Linked DNA regions of Homo sapiens: all the other regions are reported to be linked to region 1. Evidence: microRNA targets listed by miRTarBase, many of them from high-throughput screens and not tested one by one. Region 1 holds a microRNA gene; each other region holds the end of a gene's coding sequence.

Region 1 (7,512 bases):
ATATGCAACCCAGAACCCAGACTGGCAAGAGGTTATCACTCACACTGGATTTTGCTTTTTTGTCCCCACTAAAGGCAGCTGTTTCCTACAAATTTGTGTCAATCAGGCCAGGAAGTTTCTTTTTCCCTGCAATCCATTGTATGCAGGAAGATCAGAGGGCCCTGTCAGATACAAGGACGGAACCAGCTGGGCACTTGGAGATACAGGCTGGCTGCCCTGGCCTGGCCTTGCCCCAACCCTTCTGGTTGCTCAGCCAGTCCACTGTGCTGGTGCAGCTGTACCTGCTGACAGATGCTGAGAACAGGAGACTTGTTATGATAATTAATTAGGAGCACTGGCATCATCGTAAAGAGCCTCTGTTCTGTTCCAAAGCCAGCTAAGAAACTCACATCACTCACATCCTTTCCTGTCTCATAAACATGCTGCCTCTAGTCCACTGAGGGGCAAGGGATTGAGCTTGTTTCCTAGGGGTAACATCTCTAGTAAAACAAAGCCATTCTGAGGAGCCTGTGTGGACATCAGGCAGGACTACATCAAATTCTCATCTCATGGATGAAAAAGCTAAAGCTGATAATAATACCTATATATATTAATACCTATATATATAATACCCATATATATAAAATACACATATATAGGTATTATATATACAATATATATAAAATACATATATATGTGTGTGTGTGTGTATATATATATGTATATATAGCCCTCCAAGATGGCAGATGACACTGTCTGAGCACCCACTATAATCTATACTCTCATTTTTTCCACCATTAATGTAAGATTAATAGGAAATTATTAATGCATTTCTTCCATGTTGATCTAACAAAACCAAGACTTAATGAAGTTAAACACTTTGCTCATAGTCACTTAGTGATGAGTGAGCTCAGATCTCAATCTAGCTGTGTTAAATTCCTAGATCCAGGTCCCCTCCTCTTTACTATGCTGTTAACTCTGTGCCCAGAGCACAAACTGCAGTGAGAACTTACCCAAGAAATAGGATAATGACCCTTTGTTTCATGCACCACCCATTTGCTGAGCATCTTTGCTGGGGTGGTTACTAGAAGAAAGCACTAGAAAGGTCTGGCAGAGTGGTTAGATACACAAATCCTGGAGCCACTGTGAGGTTTAAAATCCTGGTTTTACCATCTACTGTCTTCATAGGAGAGCTAGACCACATTACTTAGCCTTTGTGTGCCTTGGTTTCTTCATCTGTAAAATGAAGTGACAGTATATCTCAGTTGGGTCTAATGAGGATAAAATAATTTGGTAAACATAAAGAACTTAAAACTGTGCCCTGCACATAGTGTGACAACAGCACTGGTTTTTATTGTTATGACTGTGGTAAACACAATTGACCTCATTCTTCCCCTTACAGGATCCCAATCTAGTGAAGGAATACAGATGTGAAATAAACAAAACTAAATGTATCATTTTAAATAATACTATGAAGAGAAGAGTAATGTGAGCAAGATGGCAGAATAGTAGTCTCCAGTGTCTATCCCTTCATAGAAACAGCAATTTGAACAACCACCCATGAAAAATATACCTTCACAAGAGCTAAGAAATCCAGATGAGCAATTACAGCAGCTGGGTGGAGCATAGAAATAATAAAAGATGCATTGAAAAGGGTAGGAATAAGAGTTTCACATCACTCACATCACCCTTCCCCCAAGACAGCACAGTGCAGCATGAAGAGAGAAACCCTTCATGTGGAGGAAGGAGAGTGAAGTAAGCACCCAACATCAGTGTAGATCCTAGTACCAGGTTGGCCTTCACAGACGCATGCTACAGACATGAACACAGTCAATAAAGCCATCCCACTGTATCTCAGTGCCAGTCTGGCCCCCAGGGACCCAGAATCTAGGCCTGTACCCATGGACTCAGGCACCAGGCCAGCCCGCTTAAGAATTCCAGCAGTAAACTTGCCCTCAGACCCTGCCAGCCAATCCACCCAAAATATCTTGACTGGTGAACAGCTTTCTTGGCCAAAGCTAATTGGTAAAGAATAAAAGAGATCTCTACTTCTTAAAATATGTAGACATCAACACAAGACCCCAAGGGTTACAAATAGACAAGGAAACATGACTAAAAAACAAACTAAAGCACCAGTAACCAATCCTAAAGAAATTGAGACCTATACATTGTCTGACAAAGAATTCAAAATAATTGTCTTGAAGAAACTCAACTTAAAGAGAACATAAACAACAAAATCAGAAAAACAATACATAAACAAAGTAGAAGTTCAACAAAGAGAGATAAACCATAAAAAAAGACCCAAACAGAAATTCTGGTGGTAAAGCAAAATGACTGAACTGAAAAATTCTATAAGGAACTTCAGCAGCAGACTTGATCGACCAGAAGATGGAATCAATGAGGTCAAAGACAGGCCATTTGAAATTAGTCAGAAGAATAAAAAGAAAAAAAAATGAAAAAGAAAACCTATGGGACTTATGGGACACCATCAAGTGAACTGAAATACACATTATGGGAACTCAAGAGGAGGAATAAAAGCAGAGGAGAAGGTGATAGAAAGTTTATTTAAAGAAAAAAATACATAGAACTCTCCAAATCTGGAGAGGAAAATAAACATCTCAATCCATGAAGTCCAAATAATTTGTAATTTATTAAACATAAGGAGGTCTTCATTGAGGCACATTAAAGCCAAATTCTTAAAAGTTAAAGATAAAATTATGGGCATCCATCTGAAGGGAAGAGTCCTCCTCTCCTTGGGCACAGAACTTCCCCCAGTCCCCAGTCAGCACCAGGTTCTCAGCTACCTATGTCTTATGCAATCCAGGCTTGGCACAGATTCCCAATAATGCAACCTCCTCACTGGATGATAGGCTATGTGAAGACAGAATCTTCATTTTATGCATCCTTACAACTCCAGTGTGAAGCACAGACACAACATATCATGTGCACTCAATCAATTTCGTTCAATGAAAGAACAAGTGACTCTCTTTCATTCTCTTGGAGTTGAATACTCAATCGTCCCATAAATGGTTCCAGTGCTCAAGCTGAGAATCTTACACCACAGTCAATGCCCTGAAGAAATTGAGACTGTGCTGGGAAGTCAGACACAAAAAGAAAGAGATGAGGTCCACTCTTGCTGTCATACATGAGGAACTAAGAGTCTTTCAAACAGAGGAAGATGACTTTGTGGCAGAAAAACCCACAGAGGAAGTGAATGATGGAATGGAACTTGAGGACAGGTGGAGTTTGAATAATCAGTGGGGTAGTCAATTAGAAGGTTAGGGAAAACCCCATTCATTTATCTGACAAGTCAAGCCCCAGTAGGAGCCTTTAGACAGGTTCTTCTCACAAGAACCCTGCAGGTAGGAACTATCAGCCCAGGTTAATGTCAAGGATACAGAGGCTTGGAGTGGTGAGGTGACATTCCTAGGGTCACAGAGCCAGCAACTGTTGGAGCTGAGGTCTGAACCCAGCACTCTCTGAAGCCAGAGCCCATGGATCTCTCAGGCATCCAAGGGAGAAAAAACAATGGGATCAAAGCACAGACGTCAAGGAAAGCAAGTAGTGTTTAAAAGACAAGAAGTGAGACCTGTTTACCAGAACTGATTCCCCACATAAGAGGCTCGGAGGCATTCAGTCTTTATTCACAGGCTGGAGTGATGTTGCGGTGGACTTAATGCCCCCTGAGAGGTCTGACTTCAAGCCTGTGGGTGACACGGAGCTACTGTTTTTGAGTTGGACAGGGACATGGTCAGAACTGTGCTTTCAGAATTTGGACTTGGCCACTGGAAGAAGAGACAGTTAAACTCAAGTTGCCCAACATGAGGCATGGGATGGGAGAGGTTGGGGAAGGGATGGAAGGAAACAGAGTGGGCACCAACAGGAAGGAAGCAAAGTCAGGAACTGCTGGCTGGAATGGGTCCAGGGAGAGGGAAAACCACTTCTCCTTCCTCTTCTTATGATTGCAAGATTAGTACTTGAGAATTAGGCTGCACAGGCCAGGACTTCCCAAAACTCAGGAGGGAAAGAGCCCAGAGCACGTGTCTCCAATGGAGGCTATAGTTCCAAATCACGTGATCATCGGTCATCTCCTTGCCCACCCTGAAGCCCTTGTCCCCAGTGTACTTTGGGCTCAGACAGTCCCTCAGGGGATACAGCAGTGTCCTTTCCTTCAGCATTCAGGGCAAATGAGAGGCAAAGAGATCAATGGAATGCAAAAGCGTTACTATAGATGAGAAGTCGGACGCACAGAGAGGTTCCACCACTTGCCTAATATCACACAGCAAGTACATGCCAGAATCAAAATTCAAACCTAGAGCCCCGGTGTAAACCTTACCTGAATCAGTCAGGGAGCAGCAGGGAGGCAGTGGAAGGATAGGCCCCCTGACCTCACTCCCCGCCTGCCTTCCCATCCTGCCAGTGCCTTCCAAACTGATACCAGAGAGCATGGCAGCCCTGTGTTGCATCCACCCTGATAATGCATCCACACAGGTCAGCCTTCTGGGCACAAAACAAGGCAGAGAAGAGCAAGGAGTGGACCTGGAGGGGCCCACGGAAGCTCCCCAGCACCCACCACTCCAATGGCCCAGCCCCTGGTAGGTCTCCAGTGCCCTTCACCCTACAGAGCCACAGAATCCCCAGACCTTGACGCTGCAGCTAGGGCCCGCCTGCCTCTCAAGAGAAGGGCAGGGCCCCACACAGGCAAGTGCTCTGCCTCCGCGCAAAGCTGGGCATGCGTCATCACACTCCCGCCTTCCTTCCTCATTCACTCTCCCTTGCCCTGCTTCTATCAGTGGCTCCAAGACGCAAACATCTCGAAATGACCTGCTTCTGTGTAGGTCAGCTAACAGAAGTGCTGTCTTAAGAAATGAGGGCCAGCTGATGCCCACTACCAGACCCAGCCAGCCCCTCCCAGCCTCCCTGCCAGCCCTGCACATGGAGGCCTGGCGGCCAGGAAAAAGAAAGGGCTCCTATCTCTGATTCCTCAGGGCCTCTGATAAGAAATGTCATCCCTTGCTGGGTAATATTACCAAGCCAGATAAAAATCTCTATCAAGCTTAAACATATGGCTGGCTGCAGAACACAGAGTCCAGTGGAGAAGGGTAATTTATTTGCTTAAGCTGAAAACCCTGGGCAGCCGAAAGAAGTGCCTGAATAAAAGAGTAAGAGCCAAATTATAACCTCTTCTGACTTGGCATGGGGATTTTTCCCTGGGAAGGATGAGACACCTGAGAACAACAGGGGGCTCTCCACACATTTCTCCTGACACAATAAGCGCTTTCGCCTTCCTCTTTCTTCAAAGGGCACTTTCACTTATGCTATCACATTTAATCCTCACTACAACCTCAAGAGAGGCATTTTTAGCTTCCTTTACAGATCAGGAAATTGAGATTCAGCAAGGTTAAGTAAAGTGGCCAAGGTCACACAGGCAGCCATGCTGGAGCGAGGACCCAAACCCCAGCAGGTCTGACTCACCATCAGATGGGGAAGCTGATCCCAGCTTCTGGGGAGGATCGGCTCATACATCCACTTAATCAGCGAAGTCAGATCTGCCCAACTTAACTGACAATGTCAGCTACACATTGTAATCTTGAAGGTCCATTTCAAGGCTCTCCCGTCTCCTTGTTTCTCTGTAGCCTAAAGGATAATGAGAAAGCCTTGCAGAGCACAGAAGCTCAAGGAAAAGGACGGGAGGCCAGGGATAGTACCCAGGAGAGCAGTGAGTGACCTCAGGGCTTAGATTCCAGCCTCATATGCTCAAGGAGTAGCAGGTAGAAGGAAACTGTGGAAAGAAAACTCCTCTCTCTGTTCATTCATTCATTCACAAATATTAGTGGAAAGCCTATTGTGTGCCTTCTCTAGCTTGGCCTTGGAGATACCAATGCAAATGGGCAGGCTAGGACCTGCCTTCATGGATCGTCTGTCTTCTAGAACTGACTTACAGGTCAGTAAAGAGGCAATAGCCACAGAGTGTGTTAAGTGTGTTTGTGAATGCAGAAGTTCACGTAACTGATCTGGGGTTGGTGGCTGTGCATTAGTGTGTAGCTGTTAGCATACTCCACACAGTGTTCTAGGCACTATTCTTTAAAAAGTCAGCATTGTTAAGGTTGACTTTGCTCTTTGGTAGTTAATATAGCTTCAAGATTGTTCCCAATTACTTCATATAGCCACTAATTTTTTTAGATTAATTTTTAATTCACAAATAAAAATTGTATATATTTATAATATATGATGTGAAGTTTTGAATGATGTATACATTGTGGAATGGCTAAGTTGAGTTAATTAACAGGTGCATCATCTCACATACTGATTTTTTTTTACTAATTTTTTAAACAGCTGTATTAGTGTTCCATTTTATCACAACTTAATCAACCAATCACTAACTAATGAGCATTTAAGCTGAGTCTCGTTTTTCTGTGTCAAACAATGTTGTAATGAAGATTCTCTTCTCATCATGCATGTGTTTCTGCATGAAAAGTTCTTAGGATTCGCCCAGTGTTTTTTAAGCTTGGCTTTTCCTGTGCTCTTCACTGCAGCAGTAGCAAGGTCTCAATAGCGTCCTTTACAAGATAATGGCTCCCACGCGCCCATCCTCTTCAGACCTGGTGGGGCTCTAGTAAAAGGGTTTTAGTTCTCTTTAGTGAGCAACTGCCACCATTTCCACAAAAGCACACAAGAAAACAAAAACGTTTCCATTCTGGTGGCCAAGAAACCACTCCTCTTATCCCTGCCTCCTCTGGCCCATGGTGACTTAGTTCAGAATCAAGCGGAACTTAGCAGCAAGACACCAACCTCTCTTCTCACAGGTCATTCCTAGAAAGTGTCAGCTTTCCTTTTCTTCTGGACTCTGAGAGATTCAAGAACACAGAAAGCCCAAGGCTAGCAAATCTCCACTGAAGCTCAGCATACATCAAAAACTAAAGCCTGGTGGAGAAGGCACAGCAAATGTCAACTGCACACTTGGGAGCCCAAAGTACCTTGGAGGAAGGCATCAGTCGTCCAACAGAACACCTTTGGATAGTCAAAAGATAAAGAGAGTATGACTCCATGGCTGGAACAAAGTAGAACCTCAGACAAGAGGACATCCTGTTCATGAGAGGTTGGCCATCCACTGAAGACACTGTGGGGGACCGTGAAGGCAGAGCAGACATGAGAAAGGCAGAGCCCCACTCCTTGGTCCCCTGGAGAAAACCAAAGAAAGGGCTGTAATCTACGTGATTAGAGATGGAGAAACTAAGAGCCTGGGGAACAAAGGAAAGGGCCTTACTCATTCTTCCTGGACAAGTTAGAGAAGAGGATATTTGAGTTAGATATTGAAGAGTGAACATTTAGAAGACAGAGAAAAGGGAGAGGACCTTCAGATGGTACTCACAGAGCAGTGTGGCATGGAGAGTGAAAGAATGTTCAGCCAGTGGCCAGACTGTAAAGGGTATTTCTCAGGTGCTGTGCTAAGGAGCTGGGCTTCTCCCTCCAGATGCGATGGGGGGCTGTGTAGGCTCCAGAGCAACAGAATGACAGATTAGAACTATGCTT
Region 2 (7,256 bases), not on the chromosome of region 1:
CACATCAACCTCCATCTCTCAGGTTCAAGGGATTCTCCTGCCTCAGCTTCCCCAGTAGCTGGGATTACAGACATGCGCCACCACACCTGGCTAATTTTGTATTTTTAGTAAAGACGGGGTTTCTCCACGTTGGTCAGACTGGTTTCCAACTCGCAAACCTCAAGTGATCCGCCCGCCTCTGCCTCCCAAAGTGCTGGGATTATAGGTGTGAGCCACCGCGCCCAGCCTGTGTTGTTTTTTAAATCATTTCCAGGCTCATGGTGTATACCTTCTGCGCCAGTCCTAGGTGAATTTCTCCTGGTTGGTGAGTTTTCATTGTTTACCTCTGCTCACACAGGGACTCGAGGAGGGAGACTAGGACTCAGAGTCCTCCTTCATCTTGTCACTTCTCTAAACAATTACTTTTTGTTGAAGACGCCATGTAAGCTGGAATTCAAAGCCATCTCTTTGAACAACTGTGTGAAATAATCGTGCTAAACTGTTATTCTCCTTTAATCGTTCCAACCAAGCACCCACGGGGGCCATTATTCCTCTCCTACAACTGCAAGGCAGTGCCTCACCAACTAGCTTTGTTCCTGAGGCAAGCGGCAGGAACCCCTCTGCTTTCCTCAGTGAGCAAGCGGCCCCTGACCCTGGCGAGTGAGTTTTCTCTTCACAGCCCCCTGTCCCTGCTGCCCACTGAGCCAGCCAGCCCGAGGGTGGAAAAGTCATTCTGGCTCTAAGCTTCCAGCACAGTCCGGGAGACCACACGGGTCCTGGGGAGGGTGGCTAAGCCCGAGGGGCTTTATAGGATGAGTCACAAGAAAGTCCATCTGGTGGGCCCTCCCTGACTCCCCTCCACTGTCCCCGGCTCACGGCGAGGAAGGCAAGGCTGGTGGGGGGGACAGGAAAGGGCTGGGGTCTCTCCCCACCTCCACTGCCAACGCCCTGCAGACCCCCAGGCCACAGCCTTTCCCGGGGCTCCCCCAAGGTATGGGAGGTGGGGCGGGTCCAGTTTACGCTGGTTTCAAAGAAGTGAGAGCGCCCCGCCGCCATGTCATGGAGGGTCCCGCGCCCCCACCCCTTGCCTGGGGTCGTGTGTGGGCAGCCGCAGAAAGCGCCCCGACGGCAGGAGCGGGGTTCCAGGCTGAGACCGGGCCTCGGCGGCGCCCCTTCCTGCCGGGAGTGGCGCATCCCAGGACCCACAGACAAACAGGGCCAGCCAGGGTCACCCGGAGCGCGAAGGCCGGCTATGGGCTTAGGGTGGGGTCTGGTCCCTACGGCCGGCCTAGGGGGAACGCGGGACAGGAGAAGGTCTGGGAAAAACCTGCTTCCGAGGCCTCGGCTTCGGGGCGTCCTCCTGAGCTGGCGCCAGCCCGCAGCGGGGCCGGGCAGGGACGCCGGCCTAACGGTGGGGACCGGCAGGGCCTGGGGGCAGGACGAGACAAGCACACAACCGACGGGGCGGGGCCAGGCGAGGGCACGGGGCCGAAGAAGCTTCTGCCAGGCCCGAGACCCGCACTTAGTTACCTGAGAAGGCGGGAAGGTGCGGCCGCGGGGTGAGCGGCGGACTGACCCAGCTCCAGCGCCTCTGCAGAGGCTTGCAATGGCGTCTCTCGGGCTCTGATTGGTCAGGCCTCCACACGTGAGCCTCTAGGAGCCAATCATGTCGGCCCACCTAGCATGCGCTGATTGGCTCAGGCTGGCCAGGGGCGGGCGCGGTCCTTCCACGGCCCGGTCCCCGCTCCCTTCCCCAGGCCCGGAGGCCCCGCCCGAGCGGCTCCGCTGGGGGCGGTTCTGCTGGAGAGGACGGATCTGCTGGGGAGATGGATATCCTGGAGGGGCGGATCTACTCGGGGGGCGGGTCTGCTGGGAAGGCCGGATCTGCTGTGAGGGGCGGGTCTTCTGGAGGGGCCGATCTGCTGAGGGGGCCGGATCTGCTGCCTGACAGGGCTTCCTGGCCTGGGGAGGAGGCCGTGTCTGGAGCTTGAAAGCCGGCCCCGCTGTGTTCAAGATACAGTCAAACGTTCAGAAGGAGGAGACTCCGGGGGCAGGGTGGTGCCCAGCCAGTGCATGGGGCCAGGGCCACGCTGGTGGCACCCAGGCAGCGCTGCCTCCTGGCTCTCGAATGGCTGTTCTCTGCCCAGAATGCTCTCCCACGGGACACGCGCCTCCCTCCGGGTCTGTGCACGTCACTCTGACAGAGAGGCCCCCTGACCACTCATGAAATAGTAACCCTAACCATTGCTCTCTGCTCCCTGTCCTGCTTGATTTTCCTCCAGGGCAAACACCGCCACTTCCATGTTTATCATCTGTCCTCCATCACTAGGAAAACCAGTTCCAGGAGGGAGGGACTAGTATTCCCAGCCCCTAGAACAGAGCAGCGCATATCACAGGGGCTCAGTAAACATCTGGGGAGGAGTGCCATTCCCAGGAGGCCTCAGACCCCGTCACCTGAGATGAGAGCTGGATCCCGGAGAAGCTCAGGTCTGACCCAGCATTCATTGCTGTAGGAAGGGCTCGTCTAGACTCCAAGGGAGCCGGGTGCGGTGGCTCACGCCTGAAATCCCAGCACTTCGGAAGGCCGAGGCGGGCGGATCACCAGGTCAGGAGATCCAGACCATCCTGGCTAACACGGTGAAACCCCGTCTCTACTAAAAATACAAAAAATTAGCCGGGCGTGGTGGCGGGTGCCTGTAGTCCCAGCTACTCGGGAGGCTGAGGCAGGAGAATGGTGTGAACTTGGGAGCGGAGCTTGCAGTGAGCCGAGATCGCACCACTGCACTCCATCCTGGGGGACAGAGAGAGACTCTGTCTCAAAAAAAAAAGACTCCAAGGGAAAGCTGCCTGGGTCGTGACCTGGCACGTCCAAGTCGCTGCTTAGGCTTGCAAGGGGGTCCAGACCAGGCTGTGGATGGGAAATGGGAGGCTGGGGGAGGATGGAGGCTGAGCAGTGGCTGGATGTTGGGGTGCCCTGTTGAGGGGCAGCTGGCAGCAGCCACGGACACAGGGGTGGGTGCAAAGACACTGAGTTTCTGTTCCAGGAGGAAGGGGGGCCAGCTGGCAGAGGAGAGATCACCCTGGGCAATTTGGTGGTGCCTGGGGTGCACACTTCCCCAGAGGCAGCAGGAGGAGGAGCTGGATACACCCTTCCCTGGGCTTGGAGGAGAGCACGTTCCCTCCCAGCTCCCACCTGGCATCCAGGAGGGCCCGGCCTGGGGTCAGGGCACATGGGGCCCTCCTGCCCTGGGACTGGGCAGCTCCCTGGGGCATTCCCAGCCAGCAGCATCAGGAAGGTTACAGGAGACCCAGACATGCTGCTCCCTAGAGAGGGCTCCTGACAAAGATTTTTTGTGTGGTCAAACTTTAGTTAACTTCCTGAATCTTCTGGTAGGCCCATTGGCCCACTTCCTTGTAAAATGCAGTTTTAGCAAAGAATCTGGCTAAGTCAGTTTAGCAACAAACCTTCATCCTGGAGATCTGATTGGGGTCCTCATGCTTCACCACCCTATGGGTCTGTCTGATTGCCCTGCCTGTCTCCAGCTAGAATCCAGTTAGATGGGTTTCATCAGAATCCCCCAACCCCTGATGTTCCTCAGTCATTTTCCATCCACTGAGCCCACCCTGCTCCTTGGCACCCATGGCAAGCCCTGTTGCATGGTCCCTGTACCTGTAGTGCTGGTCCTGAATAAAGCCTTCCTCACTCAGCTGTAACAAGTGTCACGGGACCATCTTTTCTTTTCTTTTTTCTTTTTTTTTTTTTGAGAGGGAGTCTCGCTCTGTCGCCCAGGCTGGAGTGCAGTGGTGTCATCTCGGCTCACTGCAACCTCTGACTCCCAGGTTCAAGGCGATTCTCCTGCCTCAGCCTCCCGAGTAGCTAGGACTACAGTTGCTTGCCACCTCACCCAGCTTTTTTTTTTTTTTTTTTGTAGTTTTAGTATTAATGGGGTTTCACCTTGTTAGCCAGAATAGTCTCCATCTCCTGACCTCGTGATCCGCTCACCTCGTCCTCCCAAAGTGCTGGGATGACAGGCGTGAGCCACCGCGCCCGGCCTGAACCACCGCACCTGGCCTGAACCACCGCACCTGGCCAGAATCATCTTTTAACAGCTTCCAAACTTGGAGGTCAAACAAGGACTTTCTGGGGAAGCAAGTGGCAGGCAGCAGCTAGGCGTGGGCTGCGCATCCAGCGGATTGAGTGTGGGCGGGACCGCCAGCAACCAGGCAGAGGGGCTGTTCTCTGGGTTGGGGTCAGGAACCTCTTCTGGCCTCAGCCCAGGTTGGCAGACATTTCCCTGCAGGGATCCGGGTCCAGGACTCAGGAGGAGGGACAGTCCCACGGGGGTGCTGGGGGGCAGGAATTCCTGGGTGGGCCGAGGTAAGGGCAGCACAGGGTGACCTGGGGCCCTGGGCCCGGTGGAGCTGAGGAGAGGGACAGGCCTGTGGTCGGGGGTCCTAGGTGGGAGGGAGAGCAGAGGGCAGATGCTTTGCGGGTGGAAGAACCACCCTGGGGGGCGGGAGACCCTGAAGGCGCAGGTTTGTGTTTAGATGGAGGTTGCGCTGGCTGGACGGCCTAGGGAAAATGGGTCTGACTGGATGGAGCTGAGTGAGAATGGTGGGAGGCCCTGCAGCCGCCGTGGAGAGAACATGCGCGGGGGAAAGCCCCGGTCCTCCGGCTGGCGAAATGGACCTCTGGAAGGAATGGCCACACGGTGTGAAATCACTGGTGTTTATTGGCTGTGATTCCATCCGGAGAGAACACACGCAGGGGCCCCGACATGCAGGAGGAGGCGCAGGCGCAGGACAGACGGACAGAGGACACCACGGTCTAAGCTAAGCTCGCGGCCCGGGGCGCCATGCGCTGGGAACGGGGTGCGCAGGTTCTACGAGAGGACGCCCTGTCTGCTCAGAGCTGGCTTTGTAAGGTGTGAAAACAGGAGTTTTTAAAAGACACGACCCGGGAGAAGTCAGTGAGAGGGCACAGGGCGAGCAGGACGGACAGCGACGTCCCCGCGGGCCGCGTCGCTGGGGCGCAGAGGGGCGCGGTGGTCTCTGCCCGGAGGGGCGTCGGTCGTTAGTATTGCAGTCTAACGTTATGGCTTCTCTAAAGCTATGTAAGGTCATGAAGGTCAATGCCAAGCCACGCCCTGGCCCGAAACACGTGGAGACTTGATGCATTTTTGATGTGGACGAAAGGGCCCGGGGGCGAGGCGGCGCCTGTCAAGATAAAACTCATTAAATGCAAAGACCTCATTTACCTGAGATTCAACAAATTGTGATGCAAATTAAACATGAATGGAGGAGAAACAGGGGCTCGGATGCCGCCCCGCAGGGCCACCAGGTGGATTAGGCCACACACGCGCCAGCTGCGCGCAGGGAACCCCGCAGGCCCCACCCGAGGAGCTGCCCACGGAGGAGGTGCTGGGCAGGGGCGCAGGGTCTCCAGCGTCCGGTGCCTCGGGCCTCTGCGGCTCCTGTGGAGGGTGCAGTGTTCAATGGCCGAGGGCAGGGGTCCTCCCCAGGGAGAAGCAGCAGCCGCGTGGGCGGAGAGGCTAGGAGGCCGGGCGGGGGGCGAGGACTTGGGAAGAGCGGGGTGACGGGGGTGGGGGCTGGGCGTCCCCCAAACCTATTGCTTTGTTTCCTTTAGTTTAGAAGTGAACACGGCCGTGGCGTTCGTAAGAAGCAAAACCTTCCAGAGAGGAGAGGAAAGGACGCGGACAGAGACGGATGGACAGGGGCGCGAGGGGGCCAGGCCGGGGGGCGGAGAGCGGCCGCGTGCGGACGCAAATACTCACGGCGGAGCGATCCGAACCCCGGAGTCCGCGTGCAGGAGGGGGACCCAGGCCCCGCCGCCCTCGCCCCGCCCGCAGCCCCCCGTCTGCTATGGCTGTGCTCCTGAGTGCGGGCCCGACAGGCGCCCACCGCCGCGAACGCGCGCACAGGGGTGGTCGCGGGGCTGCCCTTCGGCGGCCCTGGCCTCGGGCGCTGCTGGGTGGGCGGTAAACAGCAAGAGAAAGGGGCGTCCCAGGCGATGGGGCTCCAGCCACCCGCGGGCAGAGGAGCACGGGGCGGACTGGGGGGGTCCTGGGGGCGCGCGCCCCTTGCCGGGTGAGGGAGGCGGCGGGCGCGGGCAGGGCGGGCCTGGGGCTATGGCTTATATCGGCGTGGGGGCTGCGCTCTGCTCGTCCCTCAGGGGCCTCCGCGGAGGATCTGTAGGGGGAGGGGCGGGGGCTCCGCGGGGCCGCTGTCCCGCGCGCGGCTACTTCTTGAGCATGTCCTGCAGCGGCCCGGGCAGGTACTTGATGACGGTGTCCAGGATGCTCTCGTCCTCCTCCTCCACCTCGTCCCCGCAGCCCGGCGGGATGGCCTTCTTGGGCCGCGTCAAGCTCCCCTCGGAGTTGGCCTCCATGGCGGCCTGGGCCTCGGCCTCGCGCTCCTCCTTCTTCTTGATGCCGTACTGCGGGGGAGGCGGGGGTCAGGGCGGGGGTCCCGGCGGCTCCCGGGCGGGCCGCAGCCTCCCTGCGCCAGGGACTGGCCCAGGAACCCCCGAAGGCGTGGGTGCGGCCCCCTACCCCACCAGGCACACAAGGACCCCAGAAGGAGAAGAGACCCCACCCCGGGGGGTCCCTGGAGGAATGGGAAGCCCCCACGGAGAATGGGGGCCAGGAGCTGACATGGGGGGGAGCAGGGAGGGGGAGGCTCCCATCTTCCTTGAGAGGAGAGAGGGCTGTGGCCCCACCTCTGGCTCCAAACCCAGCCCAGCCCCTGGCATCCTGCCTTCCAGGAAGCCTCCGGCCCGGGGCAGGGAGGGGTGGGCAGGATGCTGCGTGGCAGAGGTGGGGAGAAACAGTCAACCCGCAGCTGACCCTCCTGCCCAGTGCCTGGTCCACGACCTGCATTCACACTCCCGGGCCTGGCCAAGGCTGCCTGGATGCGGCCGCGGCCCCAGCAGGGCCACTCCCTGGCAGGCCGCTGCAGCTCCGTGGGCAGCCGGCAGAGGGTCCTGGGCTGCGGTCACTTCCAGGCACTGGGTGTCCTGGAATCCCGCCTAGTCGTGCCCTCAGCCAGTATGCCTGGGCCTCACCGACCCCCTGCCCACCCGCGTTTCTCATCTCCCGTGAGTGCGTCTGCCCTCCGTAGTAGCTGAATATTGTCCCCCTCAAATTCATATTGCCTGGAGCTTCAAAGGTGATCTCATTCGGAAACAGGTCTTTGTTGATCTCATAATGGTAAGGATGGGGACGAGGCCATCCTGGATTTGAGGGGCCTCAAGTCCA
Region 3 (7,256 bases), not on the chromosome of region 1:
TCAAGAGGCCTTATGTGGATGAGTTCCTGAGACGCATGGGGGAACTCTTTGAATGTGTTCTCTTCACTGCCAGCCTGGCCAAGGTACCTAGGGGTGAGAGGGAAGAACCAGGAGTGGGTGTGGTGGCCACGGGGGTGGTCCAGCAGCTCCCTTTTGGTCCCTAGGGTTATACAGGAGGACCAGGAGTGTATCCAAACTAAGGCATCTTCTCTCCTCCTAGTATGCCGACCCTGTGACAGACCTGCTGGACCGGTGTGGGGTGTTCCGGGCCCGCCTATTCCGTGAGTCTTGCGTGTTCCACCAGGGCTGCTACGTCAAGGACCTCAGCCGCCTGGGGAGGGACCTGAGAAAGACCCTCATCCTGGACAACTCGCCTGCTTCTTACATATTCCACCCCGAGAATGCAGTGAGTGCTCCTGATGCGTCTCCACGGTAGGGATTGGGAGAGGAAGCAGACTGGAACTGTGGGCTCCACCAGAGAAGTACACCCCTCCAGGAAGACCCAGCCACCCTCTAGGGCTCTGGGGCGAGGGAGGGGGAAGCAGCAGTCGGGAGATTGACACCACATCTTCCCCCCACCAGGTGCCTGTGCAGTCCTGGTTTGATGACATGGCAGACACTGAGTTGCTGAACCTGATCCCAATCTTTGAGGAGCTGAGCGGAGCAGAGGACGTCTACACCAGCCTTGGGCAGCTGCGGGCCCCTTAGCCTGCCCTGCTTCCAAGCGACGGCCATCCCAGTAGGGGACTTTCCCACACTGTGCCTTTACGATCAGCGTGACAGAGTAGAAGCTGGAGTGCCTCACCACACGGCCCGGAAACAGCGGGAAGTAACTGGAAAGAGCTTTAGGACAGCTTAGATGCCGAGTGGGCGAATGCCAGACCAATGATACCCAGAGCTACCTGCCGCCAACTTGTTGAGATGTGTGTTTGACTGTGAGAGAGTGTGTGTTTGTGTGTGTGTTTTGCCATGAACTGTGGCCCCAGTGTATAGTGTTTCAGTGGGGGAGAAGCTGAAAGACCAAGACTCTTCCCAAGTTAGCTTGTCTCCTCTCCTGTCACCCTAAGAGCCACTGAGTTGTGTAGGGATGAAGACTATTGAAGACTCCATTGCCAAACCATGGCCTTTCCTCAGTGTTGTAAGGCCTATGCCAAGGATAAAGGAAGGGTATGCCTTTGGGTACTCCAGGCACACACCTTTCTGAAATCCTTCTCCAGCCAGCTGCTGCAGACAAAAGATCACATTTCTGGGAAGATGAGAACTTGTTTCCAGACCAGCATCCAGTGGCCATCAGGTCTTGTGGCCCAAAGGCTATGCTTGCCTCCGGCTGAGTGCCTGGGATAGGCCTTTTCTATGTCTCCCCAAGGCTGGGGTGCTGAGCCTGCCTTCCTCACCACCTAGCCATAGTCTCAAACCTGTGGGGAAGGAGGTTTTCTCCCTGCCCGGGAAGAGGACAGATAACTGATTTCCGTTCTTTTGACTGTGTTTTAAAATTCTCTTTCTAAACACAGAGTGTTGGGCCTGGTTTGTTTCTGACAAAGTTACAGTCCTGGGCCTGTAATGAATGTCGGCGGCGCTGGGGTTGCAGGGAAAAGACAAATCCTCAAAGCGTGGACGTGTGTCCCCATGGCTTGTGGATCAGCTAAGCTCGGGATCATTTCCATAAGTCTGCTTTTCAGGGATTCTCTGCTGGTGCTGGTGCAAGGACTTCTGTTCCAAAGGCTGGGAAAAACTAAGCTGTCCCAGCCCCTCCCATTTCTTGGGCAGGGCTCTTTTCCTGTTGTGTCTTCCCCCAGGGCCTGTCCTGTACCGAGCTCTGTCTGTTCCAGCCTTCATCCTTCCTGGCTGTTGCTTTTCCTCTTAAGGGCCTCAGAACTCTTGCTCTTCCTGGGCTGAGGGGGAATGAGTGTTCTTGCCATTTGCCAGCCTAATGCGCATGCTTTCTGCCTCTGGTAACAGGAGTGAGTGAGCCCCTCAGACCTGCACTCTGGGTGTCTCCTGCTTTCAAAGGTTCTTAATAGTGAATGCTTTAAAATTAAAGTCATCACGAAATGGAAGTTTTCCCAGGGTGGAAAATAAGAGGAAGTGCTGCTGTAATTGGGAGCACAAGGGGCCTCCCAAAAAGGAGCCCCACCTCAGCATCACTGCCTTAATCGTGGCCTCCCTGGGGTGGGTGGGGTTCTCTCCTCCCTCCCTCCCTCCTCCTGGGGTGGGAGGGCGCTCCTGTTCCCATCTCTGTGTTCCCTGGAGGCAGGTATCACAAAGCATTTGTGAATTGCTTTAGGTGCAGGGACACCACCCACTCAGGACTCTTCCCCATCATCCCTTCCATTGCCACACCCTAGATCCAGCCTCAGGAACTAACAAGTTTTGAGAAAAGCAGGTAGTAGAGCAGCAGCTTCGTGCTCTCAGCGGTGGCTGGCTGGCATTTTTCTCTAGCGTTGTGGTGCCACCTTCCCTTCTTGTCCCAAGGTTATAAGGCCTTGTCTTTCTCTTTGGAATCATAAAGTGGAACAGAGTCCCCAGAACTCATGTGGCCATTTCCGCCAGCATCACTCCCCGGTGCCTATGGGGTCCCGGTGTACCTAAAGGGAGAAGGACCCCATGTGCTAGCCAGAAATATACTGTCTCTTGAAGGAAAGCAGGAGCTCAGACTCTTAGAGCCAGCTGTGGCTTCGGACCCAAGGCCTGACCTAGGCTGCTATCCTAATATTGCAGGAGGGGCCTCTCTTCCAAGCCCCACCCTAAGGGTTAGCCCTTGGCCAAATCTTTTGCCGTCTAGGCCCAGCCAGGCTTTTCTGACTAAATAAGCAATAAGAGGCTCTAAGCTGACTGAGTTGCAAGGACCCTTTCCGCCCTCCCTTGGATCTCCATGTTTTTCCAGATGGCGGAAGAGCATGTGCCACCCCCTTTCCTAACAGACTTGTCCAAGTGCTTGGCGTGGGACCCATGACCAAAGCCCAGGATGGCTTGGTGGGAGTGTCCCTGCTGCATCTGCATGAAGCCCCTGCTTTTTAGGCCTCACTCCCATCAGAACCCTGCCTGCCCACCTGCAACTCCCCCCCAACAATGCCATTCCCACTTGCCCCAGAGAAGCTACTCGGCCAAACCTAGCCAGGGTCTGTTCTTGTGGACCAGAGCCAGCCTAGTCATTATTTGCTGTCGGGTTTCCAGTTTCACCGTGTGTTAGGGTGAGGGATGATTGTAAAATTTGCTCCTCAAAGGAATCAGGCCAGACTCAATTTTGGAGGGCAAGACAGGGAGGAGGCCGCTTCATCCCAGACTCTCTTCTAGGGCTTCCCACCATCAGCCCCTCCCACTTGAGACTGGTCTTTGGGAGGCAATAGGCCACCATGCCTGGTCAGCACCAATTCAAGCCATGCCAGGAATCTGCCTACCTGCCAGGTTCAGTTCTTTTAAGGTGCCTCTTCAGGGACACAGTGTGTCTCTCTGATTGGGCTTCTAAATCAAAAGCCTGATGTTCGTGTCCCTCTCATAGGGGGAGCTTTGGACACAGGACCAGTTTGGAAAAGGGTCAGGTAAGGGTTTCCACTCTGCACATTGTAGAGGGAACACTCTGTAGGCCCATGGGTCCCTTACTAGAGAGGTTGAGTGAATTTGCCTTCAGTTAACATGGGACCTTCTGTTTAGCTTCCTCTTGCTTCCCAAAGATTTTAAGCATTTTGTAAATGTATAAACTCACCTCTGGTAACAGTGGCCCAGACGCTGCTTTGTGCTAAAAGCATGGGAAATGTAAAGGCAGTCTTTCTCTGGGAAATGGATGCTATTCTATTCTGCTGCCCCTACCTGTTCCTGAGGCCTCATTTAGAAAGAAAATCCCCTCAGAAGGCTGTCTGGCACCCAGTGTCCTAGCCAGGCCAAGTATATGAGAAAGGTAAGTCCATTTTCCCCTTCAGGTCCTCAGTGGATTACTTAACCACTGCTGTCCCTCGGTCCCTTTTTCCTAAACGGGTTTAGTTCTGTCTTTTTTCTCCTTTTTTCTAAATGCTGGTAAATATTTACATTCAGCCAGGGAAGAGGAGGCCAGAGGTCGGGCCAGCTGCCCCATTCTTTTAACGTTGTAGGGCCTGCCCATGGAGCGGACCCTCCTCTTTGGGCCTCGTGAGCTTTTTTGCTTATCATGTTCCATTTCGTGCCGCTTTCCCCCTTCAAGATGCCATTTGGAGGGTAGGGGATCTGCTTCCCACTGTGACTGGGCTATGGGATTCTGACTACCTTGCTTACAGATTCATGGTTTGATAAATTTGTTGTATTCAAAAACTTGAAATGCAGGACGCCATTAAGTGTCTGTTTATATTTTTGGAATATTTGTATTACTTACAATTAATTAATAAAAGTGGGTTTAAAAAACCTTTCCAGGAATGTGAGCTGCCACCAACCTTCATTGGCCCTTAAGTGTTCACTGGGCCCATGGCAAGCACCGCCTTTCTTCTCGCAACCCCTTCCATCATGAAGCAGCTGCACCCCCGGGCTGAGTGGGGTGTTGCACCCACCGGGAGGCCAGCTGCAGATGCCACACAGGGCTTCCGCTCAAGGTTACACAAGTTCTGCTGTGATCAACCCCATTGCAGTCAGGTGCTTAGCACGTGTATATGCTTGATGTCCTATTGACTTCTGGGCATGAACCAGAAGCCCTAAGGGAATGGATTATTATTTTTTTTTTTTTTTTTGAAATGGAGTCTTGCTCTGTTGCCCAGGCTAGAGGCAGTGGCATGATCTCAGCTCACTGCAACCTCCACCTCCCAGGTTCAAGCGATTCTCCTGCCTCAGTCTCCTGAGTAGCTGGGATTACAGGCGCCTGCCAGCACGCCCGGCTCATTTTTGTATTTTTAGTAGAGATGGGGTTTCACCATCTTGGCCAGGCTGTTTTCAAACTCCTCACATTGTGATCCACCCACCTCAGCCTCCCAAAGTGCTGGGATTACAGGCGTGAGCCACCACCACACCCAGCCCTGGGAATGGAGTCTTGATTCTTCTCTGCCCCTCACTGATTCTTCCAAACTGGAAACCCTGAAGCTGAGAGCCCAGCATGGTTCCTGGCAAACAGCAGGCACTCAAATATTGATTGGTTTACTGTATGACTAGTAGAGACCCCAACGAGCAAAACTGTGGCCTAATAAAATTCTGGCTCCTCTCCCAGACTTCCCCTCCCTTTGAGAAATGCCAGAAGCTTCTTAGGGAGGCTCTTGCCAACCTAGACATCACAGGCACTCATGGGGCAGCTCCAGCCTCTTCCTCCTGTCATCACCATAATGCATCCATATCTACAATATGGCAAATTTCATATCCTTCCAACCTCTTTCCTGCATTATTGATGGGCTGTGTGCACTTTTTAAAAAATCAATTAGATCAGGGCGTGGAGCTGGAGTTCAAAGAAGCCTTTAAAAGTCTGCTCTTCTGTTTTGCTGTTTTGAATAGGCACAGATAAAGCTTTCCCTCTGGTTTGAATAAGCCAAGCTCAGTGCTAGGTTGGCTCTGATTGGCCAGGACTAGGAAAATGCGGTTAAGATGCAAACACAAGCAAATATAACCCAGTATCTCTGCGGCCATTACTAAGCTAAGGCAGCAGGACCTGGAGCCTCCTGCTTTGGAGTGGTTCTTCAATACTGCTGCTGCTTACGCGCCGGGAAACTGGGAAGGCTGGTGAGCGAGAAGGCAAGGTAAGGTCTCTGATTTACGGGGGCATGCCAGTTAATCCTCCTGAATGAGGAAGAAATGAAAGGAAGAGGAGCTTGAGAGTCCCTTGGCTTTGTCTTCTGAGATGAGGCTTTTAAAATGAACCAGGAGTCTGGCTGGCCAGTTTTGCAAACTTCTTGTTCAGAAGAACCCCTTAGAGGCAGCTGAACATATAGGGCACATTTTCAAAAGCTGGGAAAGACAGACCCCTTTCACCTATCCCTAGAGAAAGATGGTATGGAGCAAGGCAGGAGGAGTTAAAACCAGCTTCCTGGCCCAGAGAGGTGGCTTACACCTGTAATCCCAACACTTTGGGAAGCCAGGGCATGAGGATTGTTTGAGCCCAGGAGTTTGTAACTTGTGACCATCCTGGGCAACATAGTGAGACCCTGTCTCTACAAAAAAAAAAAAAAAAAAAAAAAAAAAAAAAGCCAAGCATGGTGGTGCACACCTGTGGTCTCAGCTTCTCAGGAGGCTGAGGCAGAAGGATCACTTGAGCCCAGGAGGTGGCGGTTGCAGTGAGCCGTGATTGTACCACTGCACTCCAGCCTGGGTGACAGAGCAAGACCCTGTCTCAAAAACAACAACAACAAAAAACAGCTTCCTCTGCTCAGGGTCCGTCCAAAAGGGCATCTCTGAGAATTACAGGCCACTGGCTTTTAACCTGACATTTCAAAACTGTGCCCCACACCCAAGGGGTTTCTGCAGTCCTCTCAAAGGATACTGAATTAGGATTTAGGGAGAAGGAGAGACCCAGCTTTGGGAGATTTGATGTCAGAACTGTGTTTTCTGTGTGTTCCAGTGTGACAGGAAGTCCCTTCCTGGAGCTTATCCTCTCGCATTCGGGGTGCCTGGCCCAGGGAGCTCCTTGATTCCTAAATTCCTGCTGGGAAACGGGACAGGTTTCAGCCTCTGAGGCTCACAGTCCTAATTGCTGCCGGCTGGTTTGGCTTTTACCAGGGTGACAGTTCTCTGTCTCCAAGGAATGAATTCAGTGGCCCTTGTCCCCTTCCCCTAGTTGGCTCATGGCTTTTGCCTTTAATGACTGCTACGTAGGGTCTGAAGAAAACCCAAACACCATATTTCCTGGCAATTCTGAGCAGCACAGGGTGGGGCAGCACAAGTTATCAAATTAAATTCTCAAACACTGGCTGCTCCGCACCATTGCCTTGCTTTAGTCCTGCTACAGCAGTAGACAAAGCGAGTCTGCTTTGAGCTTTATGGTTTTTTGCCAAAGTCCATACTAGATGGCGCATGCTCTCCAAACTTGGCTTTGTCCATCAAGGTTCAAGAAAACAATGGTCAGACATGTTCCTCTTAACAAACAGTATGTCCCCAAACAGCAAAAATGCATACAGTCCTTTCTGGGTGAATTTTTAAATCTTACATAAATCCATCAACCCCATCCTTTTTCCTTTGCCTCTTGGGAGAAATTAATCTAGCTTTACATTAATTATGCATGTTATCAGATTTCAAGCTCCTTGAGAGCAGGTATTTTAATTCTATAAAGCCTCTACGTGGCCTTGGACATGGGTAGGTGCTTAATTACCCAAGATGCT

What was found. The annotated mature microRNA hsa-miR-1207-5p reads UGGCAGGGAGGCUGGGAGGGG and lies in region 1 at 4,885-4,905, opposite strand. An mRNA with a match to its seed (bases 2 to 7 or 8) in the 3' UTR can be bound and repressed. Matches are read on the target gene's strand: a 7mer-m8 pairs with bases 2 to 8, a 7mer-A1 pairs with bases 2 to 7 and ends in A, and an 8mer does both.
Region 2: miRTarBase lists CPLX1 as a target of hsa-miR-1207-5p. Seed matches in the 3' UTR shown: 7mer-m8 at 6,109-6,115, 7mer-m8 at 5,484-5,490 and 7mer-m8 at 5,404-5,410.
Region 3: the mRNA of CTDSP2 is a reported target of hsa-miR-1207-5p. Seed matches in the 3' UTR shown: 7mer-m8 at 1,437-1,443, 7mer-m8 at 3,037-3,043 and 7mer-A1 at 3,398-3,404.

The regions. Positions count from the first base shown.
Region 1 is chr8:128,046,552-128,054,063 of GRCh38, reverse strand. It overlaps MIR1207 (microRNA 1207), which reads right to left and starts at 4,912; the gene lies at 4,826-4,912. All of the region lies in intron 6 of PVT1 (Pvt1 oncogene), which reads right to left. RefSeq lists a cis regulatory region at 4,521-4,773, enhancers at 4,652-5,197, 3,717-5,833 and a silencer at 5,386-5,569.
Region 2 is chr4:780,263-787,518 of GRCh38, forward strand. It overlaps CPLX1 (complexin 1), which reads right to left. Exons shown (of 4, transcript NM_006651.4): 4 at 4,695-6,436. The coding sequence ends at 6,239. LOC124900163 (chloride intracellular channel protein 6-like) reads right to left here and starts at 1,586. Exons shown (of 2, transcript XM_047416474.1): 1 at 1,510-1,586. It overlaps PCGF3-AS1 (PCGF3 antisense RNA 1), which reads right to left and starts at 1,587. Exons shown (of 3, transcript NR_171661.1): 1 at 1,510-1,587. RefSeq lists enhancers at 702-1,419, 1,420-2,136, 2,137-2,854, 4,849-5,720 and silencers at 1,346-1,425, 1,526-1,875.
Region 3 is chr12:57,817,054-57,824,309 of GRCh38, reverse strand. CTDSP2 (CTD small phosphatase 2) reads left to right here. Exons shown (of 8, transcript NM_005730.4): 6 at 1-83; 7 at 221-406; 8 at 583-4,383. The coding sequence ends at 708. AVIL (advillin) reads left to right here and starts at 5,576. Exons shown (of 20, transcript NM_006576.4): 1 at 5,576-5,681.